2 linked regions of the Homo sapiens genome follow. The protein of the gene in region 2 interacts with the protein of the main gene of each other region in a biochemical or structural test. Each region holds a gene or a part of one and is shown on either strand. Other genes may lie near its edges.

Evidence for each region.
Region 1: of the proteins of BTRC (region 2) and SMURF2, one has a biochemical effect on the other in vitro, tested with the Homo sapiens proteins (one study listed by BioGRID).

What each region holds. Positions count from the first base shown.
Region 1 is NC_000017.11:64,541,782-64,544,544, reverse strand, and holds the end of SMURF2 (E3 ubiquitin-protein ligase SMURF2), read left to right. Parts: 3' UTR 1-2,263; downstream 2,264-2,763. UniProt on the Homo sapiens protein: E3 ubiquitin-protein ligase which accepts ubiquitin from an E2 ubiquitin-conjugating enzyme in the form of a thioester and then directly transfers the ubiquitin to targeted substrates.
Region 2 is NC_000010.11:101,359,018-101,364,257, forward strand, and holds part of BTRC (F-box/WD repeat-containing protein 1A), read left to right. Parts: intron 1-5,240. UniProt on the Homo sapiens protein: Substrate recognition component of a SCF (SKP1-CUL1-F-box protein) E3 ubiquitin-protein ligase complex which mediates the ubiquitination and subsequent proteasomal degradation of target proteins. Recognizes and binds to phosphorylated target proteins.

The DNA of each region.
Region 1 (2,763 bases), on a different chromosome or scaffold from region 2:
GAAGCAACGAAAACTCTGGGGTGAGGGATTGAAAAAATCTGAAATCACAGTTGGATTTTTAAATTCAACCATCAAAAATATGTACTATCAGTTTTTTTTTACATTGATGTGAAATAAGCAAATTTTCATGATAATTAAGCTGCAAAATTTAAAGTTATCAAGTAAATAGGTCCTCTGTGTTCTGTTTCATGTGATGGAGTGGGTTTCAGTCTGTGTTCTTGGAGCCAAAGGGTTCCTCAGGGGTGCCTCAGGAGTAATGGTTTAAGAGAAGAGGGGCAATGAGAGGGAGCGAGGGGGAAGGCCTAGTTGGTATTTGAGCAGGGGCCTTAGGCTCCATATCCCCACCCCCTTTACCCAGAACAGCCCATTTTTCTTATGTATATTGGAATTTCAAGTAAGCTTTCATGGGGTGCAGTGGGGCGGGGAGGAATGGATGGGATAAAAAAAGTGGAGATTTTGCTGCTTTAAAAAAGTTGAGAACTACTTGTGTAGTTTTTAAGTATTTTAATGTATTTCATTTGGCCAAATTCAACTGCCACAAGCAAGCTAGTCATAGTTGTAACTGTGCAGTGGTAATATGCTTATGCCTACCTTTTTCCTCTCAAACAATTTGTTTTTTTTACATTGCATTCTGAGTACTGAAGAGCATCTTGAAATGTATGGAAGTGGTTTCTATGCTATTTGATAATCAGTAATGTTCAGCTGTCATGATAGTACTTTACTGGTTGCAGACCCATCTCTCTTTTATATTAAAGCACTAGTGCAGTTTATAATTGTGCCTACTTTTAAAATCTTTCAGTAAAAAAGTACATAATGAATACAGAAATCATAACTGACAGGGATACAGTAATAATGAAATGCTACTATCACTTATTTTAATATACAATATAAAGCAGGCAAATACCATTGCTTTTTGAGTGCCTTTTTAACTTTATACTAATGACTTAATAGAGCTTTAAAAGAAAGAAATTGGCTGGGCATGGTGGCTCACACCTGTAATCCCAGCACTTTGGGAGGCCGAGGTGGGCGGATCACCTGAGGTCAGGAGTTCGAGACCAGCCTGGCCAACGTGGTGAAACCCTGTCTCTACTAAAAATACAAAATTTAGCCGGGCATGGTGGCGCACTCCTGTAATCCAACTACTTGGGAGGCTGAGGCAGGAGAATTGCTTGAATCTGGGAGGCAGAGATTGCAGTGAGCCGAGATCGCACCACTGCACTCCAGCCTGGGCGACAAGAGTGAGACTCCGTCCCCGCCCAAAAAAAAAAAAAAAAGAAATTACTCTCCATAACAGTCTATGTTATCACCAACATATATAAAAACATGATTTAGATTTCCATTTCAAAGTTACATTACCCGATTACTTCCAAATAGGTGCTAAGCAAAAACCCCCAATGTATTATTGAACCATGGACTTGCACCTCATGTTTAATGTGAATATTTATTTCCATGTCCCTCTTAACTGGTTTTTTCTTGTCTTCCCTCTAGCTGTATTGTTATTTCAGATATGTGATATCTGTTTTCATACTCTTGCCTTTCCATCATGAATGCTTAGTTATGAACAGAGATTCCTTTGTAGAGCTCATAGGCAGTACAGAGAGGTAAGTCTTGCCTCAGAGGGCCTTGTATCTTGGTGTAGTTTTTAAATAGTGCATAGTGTATAGTGTATAGTGTACATTTTGTTTTGCACATAGTTTGTTGCCCCGAATGGGTTTTTTACCAAGCCTTTTTTTCTTTCATGTATTTACAGTCCGGAGCACAAGATTCTCTTCTTTCAAATACAATGTAATTCGCTTTACTTTACAACACTAAATCTGGGCTTTGAATTTCCAGTGCATTGGACTGATTGGATTGTTGGGAGTTAGAGGCTGTTCCAACCATCCTTAGTTTGGGAGAGTGGCTCCTTCTGCTTGTTTTCTAAGCGTACAGTCAACGGGTGCCATTTGTGGTATTTAACATGTTAGGATGATTGTTCCAAATGCTGAGTTGTTTTATTTCTAGATGTAATTAGTTCACTTTATGTAATATTCTTCTCTCAGACTGACTTTAAAAACAAAGTTTTATCATTTTCATTGTATTTGTATTTATTACAGAGTGTTTTAGCTTTGATATTCTTTGTATTTTCATTCATTTGTTACATGAGCTTTATCAGTAACATCTGTATAAATGGTTTTTAAAAATTAACTATGTATGTGCCCATGCCGAAGTCGAGCAATAAAATCAATGCTGTTTGCACTGTCACAGCATCAACGTTTTTAAAGAATATTGAGTTTGTAATGAATCGTTTTGAAAACATTTATGGTTGGCTCTATGGAGGGTGACAACATGAGTCACAAAATGAAAAGTTCAAGAACACATGCCATCCTGAGTTGATGCCTCTGTCATGTTGCAGAGCTCAGCTTTCTGTCTCCTCGCAGAGCAGGGAAGGTGCCCGTTTTCTCCGGCCGTGGTGACTGCTCAGTTGGTAGTACCTGTTGGGGGTACCGCATAGGTGGATTTCTGAGGGGGGTCAGGGGCTAGTGGGGAAGAGCATCTTGGTCCTGTCACCAGTCTGCAACCATCTTTGCTATAATACATCTCCGCTCTGTAGGGCAGGCCTATGACAGGGGCTCATATTTGCCAGCCCTACCTTGGTATGTCGAGCAGTAAAATTCTCAAAATGAAAAGGAGAAATCAATTGTATTTTTTCTAGAAGCTGTGGATTTTAAGGTTTATAATTCACTACTGTATTAATGATAGTGGACTAAAGTCCAGCTAACTCTA
Region 2 (5,240 bases):
GCTAGGAATGTTTAGGAGGCATCTCTTTTTTTGAGGTTAACTTCGGAAGGCACTAACATGATCTCCTGCGTGACTTCCCTTAATGATGTCACTGTTGACATAATACTGGGTGAATTAATGTGATTAAGTAAACTTGCTTACTTACTTCAGGAAACAGAGGTATCTAAACAGATTACATTTTAAAATAAATTGTCAGATGTTTCACTGTAATGGAATTTTCTTTACATCAGTGAAATTGATTACCAGGTAGTGGGATGAACATCTGAAACTAGTTCTTAGTTTAAGTTGTCTGAGTTTTTGTGTATACTTTACCTATTCCCAGTTTAAATTGGCTTTCAAACAGTTTGTTTTCTGGGTACTCTTATAGGTGTTGGGGTATGAAATTAGTGGTAATTCTTTTTGCCTATTTTCTTTTTTTTTGTCTGAGATACCCTGAGTCTCGCTCTGTTGCCCAGACTGGAGTGCAGTGGCACAATTTCGGTTCACTGCAACCTCCGCCTCCTGGGTTCAAATGATTCTCCTGCCTCAGCCTCCTAAGTAGCTGGAATTACAGGCGTGTACCACCTTGCCTGGCTAATTTTGTTGTATTTTTTTTTTTTTGAGATGGAGTTTTGGTCTTGTTGCCCAGGCTGGAGTGCAATGGTGCAAACTCAGTTCACTGCAACCTCTGCTTCTGAGGTTCAAGTGATTCTCCTTCCTCAGCCTCCCCTGTAGCTGGGATTACAGGCATGCACCACCACACCCAGCTAATTTTGTATTTTTGGTAGAGACAGGGCTTTTCCATGTTGGTCAGGCTGGTCTCGAACTCCCAACCTCAGGTGATCTGCCCGCCTTGGCCTCCCAAAGTGCTGAGATTACAGGCGTGAGCTGCCGTGTCCGGCCTCTTTTTGCTAATTTTCTAAATTTATGTTTATAGTAGATTTTCATAAATTATCAAAAGTGAATTATTAGATGTGGAGTAAAAATTCAACTTTGAGTAGTTTTAGAAATTATTTATTGCTAAATTAGAAAATAAACTTTCAAAAGAGATCTCTTTTTTTTAAAAAAACTTAATTGAGACAGGGTCTCACTCTGTCACCCAGGCTGGAGTACAGTGGTGCAACCTTGGCTCACTGCAGCCCCTACCTCCTGGGTTCAAGCAATTCTTGTGCCTCAGCCTCCCAGGTAGCTGGGAATACAGGCATGTGCCACCACGCCCAGCTAAATTTTGTGTTTTTAGTAGAGACAGGGTTTCACCGTGTTGCCCGGGCTGGTCTCGAACTCCTGACTTCAAGTGATCCGCCCACCTTGGCCTCCCAAAGTGCTGGGATTACAGGCGTGAGTCACTATGCCTGGCCTAGAGATGGGATCTGCTTTTTTTTTTTTTTTTTTTTTGAGATGGAGTCTTGCTCTGTCACCCAGGCTGGAGTGCAATGGCACGATCTCAACTCACTGCAACCTCCGCTTCCCAGGTTCAGGCAATTCTCCTGTCTCAGCCTCCTAAGTAGCTGGGATTACAGGCACCTGCCATCATCCCTGACTAATTTTTGTATTTTTGTAGACGGGGTTTCACCATGTTGGCCAGGCTATTCTTGAACTCCTGACCTCAGGTGATCCGACCGCCTCGGCCTCCCAAAGTGCTGGGATTATAGGCATTAGCTACCGCGTCTGGCCTCTAGAGATGGGATCTTGCTTGCTCTGTTGCCAGGTTGGCCTTGAACTCAGGCTAGGGTTAAGTGATCTTTGTGCCTCGGCCTCTCCAGTAGCTGGGACTACAGGTGCGTGCCACCACTCGCAGCCTAAAATACTTTTTAAATCTCACCTACTTTCTAGCAGTATTTTATTTTATTTGGGCGCAGCTCTGCCATCAGTAGGCTGAGCTCCCTGCAGCCTCAAACTCCTGGGCTGAAGCAATGCCTCTGCCTCAGCCTCCTGAGTAGCTGGGACTACAGGTTTGTGCCACCACACCTGGCTATATTTTTATTTTTTTGTAGAGATGGGGTCTTGCTGTGTTGCCCAGGCTGGTCTGGAACTCCTGGCCTCAAGTTATTCTCCTGCATCAGCCTTCCAAATTGCTGGGATTACAGGCTTGAGCCACCATGCCCAGCTTTAGCAATTTTTTTTTTTTGAGACGGAGTCTCGCTCTATTGCCCAAGCTGGAGTGCAGTGGTGCGATCTCAGCTCACTGCAACCTCAGCTTCCTGGGTTCAAACAGTTCTCCTGCCTCAGCCTCCCAAATAGCTGGGATTACAGGCACGTGTCACCACACCTGGCTAATTTTTTGTATTTTTAGTAGAGATGGGGTTTCACCGTGTTAGCCAGGATGGTCTCGATCTCCTGACCTTGTGATCCAACCGCCTCAGCCTCCCTAAGTGCTGGGATTACAGGCATGTGCCACCGCACCTGGCCAGCAATATTTTAATATAGCACAGAAGTCCTTTCTAAATGTGTATAGTGAGAATCCATTGAGGATGAAATAGAAAATATTTACCAAAGTTTAACAACTTAGTCAATAAAAATAAAACTTTCTCTTTCCGTAATAAGTCAATCTCAGCATTCTAAAATAGGCAATGGAGGGGGGAAGAAATCTCTATGGGAAGGGTCCACTGGATCTTAACAGTTTCAACTAGTGTTCCACAATATTTCTGCTGTACTTGGGGAGAATTTCTGGATAATTAGAATAGTCTGAGGCTTATTCCTTTTAGTTTCCCATAGCCTGATTGAGATAGAGCTATAAGACCAGCTATAACATTGTACAGAAGACTCAGAGATAAACAAGTGAAAAAGATAACTGAGATTAATGTTGAACTAAGAATATGATTGTTCTCTGAGGCACTACCTGCTAGTTCCTGGATTACCTTTATATGTGGCCAAGGTGGGGATTGGGAAGCAAGGGAGCAAAAGCCCTAGAGCTAAGGGAGAGAGAATTTCTGCCTGCCTAAGATGAACCTTCTGAGTTGGATATTTTTTTTTCTTCCCCCTTGAGACGGAGTCTCACTCTGTCGCCAGACTGGAGTGCAGTGGCATGATCTCAGCTCACTGCAACCCCCGACTCCCTGGTTCAAATGATTTTCCTGCCTCAGCCTCCCGAGTAGCTGGGATTACAGGCACGTACCACCACACCCAGCTCATTTTTGTGTTTTTAGTAGGGATGGGGTTTCACCATGTTGGCCAGGACAGTCTCGATCTCCTCCTTGTGATTCGCCCGCCTTGGCCTCCCAAAGTGCTGGGATTACAGCTGTGAGCCACCGTGCCCGGCCTTGAGTTGGAATTTCTTTCTAAAGTCTTGCTCCTTTCTGTAGTTTGGCTTTCCTTTCAGGGTATCTGATTTTGCCTTCCTGCTCCTAGGCTTGTGACCTGACCTGATGCTGTCAATTACAGGAGAATGCAGAGGTGCAAGAAATTTTTTTTTTTTTGAGATGGAGTTTCGCTCTTGTTGCCCAGGTTGGGGTGCAATGGCACAATCTCGGCTCACAGCAACCTCCGCCTCCCGGGTTCAAGCTATTCTCCTGCCTCAGCCTCCCGAGTAGCTGGGATTACAGGCATGCGGCACCACACCCAGCTAATTTTGTATTTTTAGTAGAGACGGAGTTTTTCCATGTTGGTCAGGCTGGTCTTGAACTCCCGACCTTAGGTGATCCGCCCGCCTCTGCCTCCCAAAGTGCTGGGATTACAGGTGTGAGCCACCACGCCCGGCCAGAAGAAATTTTTTGTGTTTTGTTAATACAGTCAGCCACGAATAGCTAACAGCTAACAGCTGGTCCCTCATATTTGTGGGTTCCATATCTGCTAATTCAACCATTGATTGAAAATATTCAGAAAAAGAGACCACAATAAAAAATAACAATATAACAATAAAAGTGGGAATTAAAAACAATACGTATAACAACTACTTACATAACATTTACATTGCATTATTATATGTAATCTAGAGATGATTTGAAATATATGGGAGGATGTGTGTAGGTTATGTGCCGTTTAAGGCACTATAAGAGACTTTTGAGTATCTGTGGATTTTGGTATCCGATGGGAGGATCCTGGAACCAGTTCCCTGCAGCTATGGAGGTTTGACTATAATTATTTAGCATGTACTATTTGCTGTTCTAAATATACTGTTCTAAGCTCTTTATATATATTATTTCATTTAATCCTCCCAGTAATCCTGTGAGATAGATTCAGTATTATTATTATCCCCATTTCTCATTTAAGGAAAATTATTCCAGAGAGGTTAAGTAACTTGCTCAAAGTCATGCTAGCAGGTATCCTGAGATTAAATCCAGGCAGTCTGACTTGAGAGCCTTACTTACGTGCAGTATACTTCCTCTTTGAAGAGCAGGAAAACTGTGGGATATGGTGGCATGTTTCCTTAATATCTGTTAAGGCACACTTTGGTAAATGCTAAAATAGAAGCACAAAGTGCTATAGAATTTAAGGGAGGGGAAGTTCGTTTTTGTTTTTGTTTTTGTTTTTTCTTTTTTTTGAGATGGAGTCTTACTCTGTCACCCAGGCTGGAGTGCAGTAGCGCAATCTCAGCTCACTGCCACCTCCACCTCCCGGGTTCAAGTGATTCTCCTGCCTCAGCCTCCCGAGTAGCTGGGACTACAGGTGTGCACCACCACGCCCGGCTAAGTTTTGTATTTTTTAGTAGTGCTGGGATTACAGGTGTGAGCCACTGTGCCTGGCCGGGAAGTTCGTTTTAACTGAAGAGCTCTTTAGCAGCTTTGTAGAAGAAAGCTTCATATTAGATCTTGATGAATAGATAGATTTTGACAGATATCTCTCTGAGGTAGGCAGTCAAGCGGTGGCCAGAGTGGAAGAATTACTGTCCAGATTTACATATAGGTTTCCTGATTATTTAAATTACCGATGAAGTGCAGTAAGACTCTACTGTTGTCACAGTATCATTTCAGTTAGCTATTGGCGTTTAGAATCACAAAATACCAGCATCTTACAGTGATAGGTATTTATTCTCTTGAAATTGTGGGTTTGCTGGGTAGTGGATGATCTAAACTTGGCTTACTCAAAGTCAAAAGCCCAAAGTCAAGCAGGGCAGGGAGTAACTTGCACAATACTATAGTGACAGTAATCTACTGCAGTGATCTAGTACAGTTGATTTAGAGAAGAATGGTAAGATGCTTATTATGACAACTATTGTGCTTTCTTCTTTCTGCTCTCTATTGTTGACACTCTCCTGATAGCACTTTTTCATTTTGGTTGCTGAATAATACCTGTTGATTGGATACTCCTAGAATCATAATGTA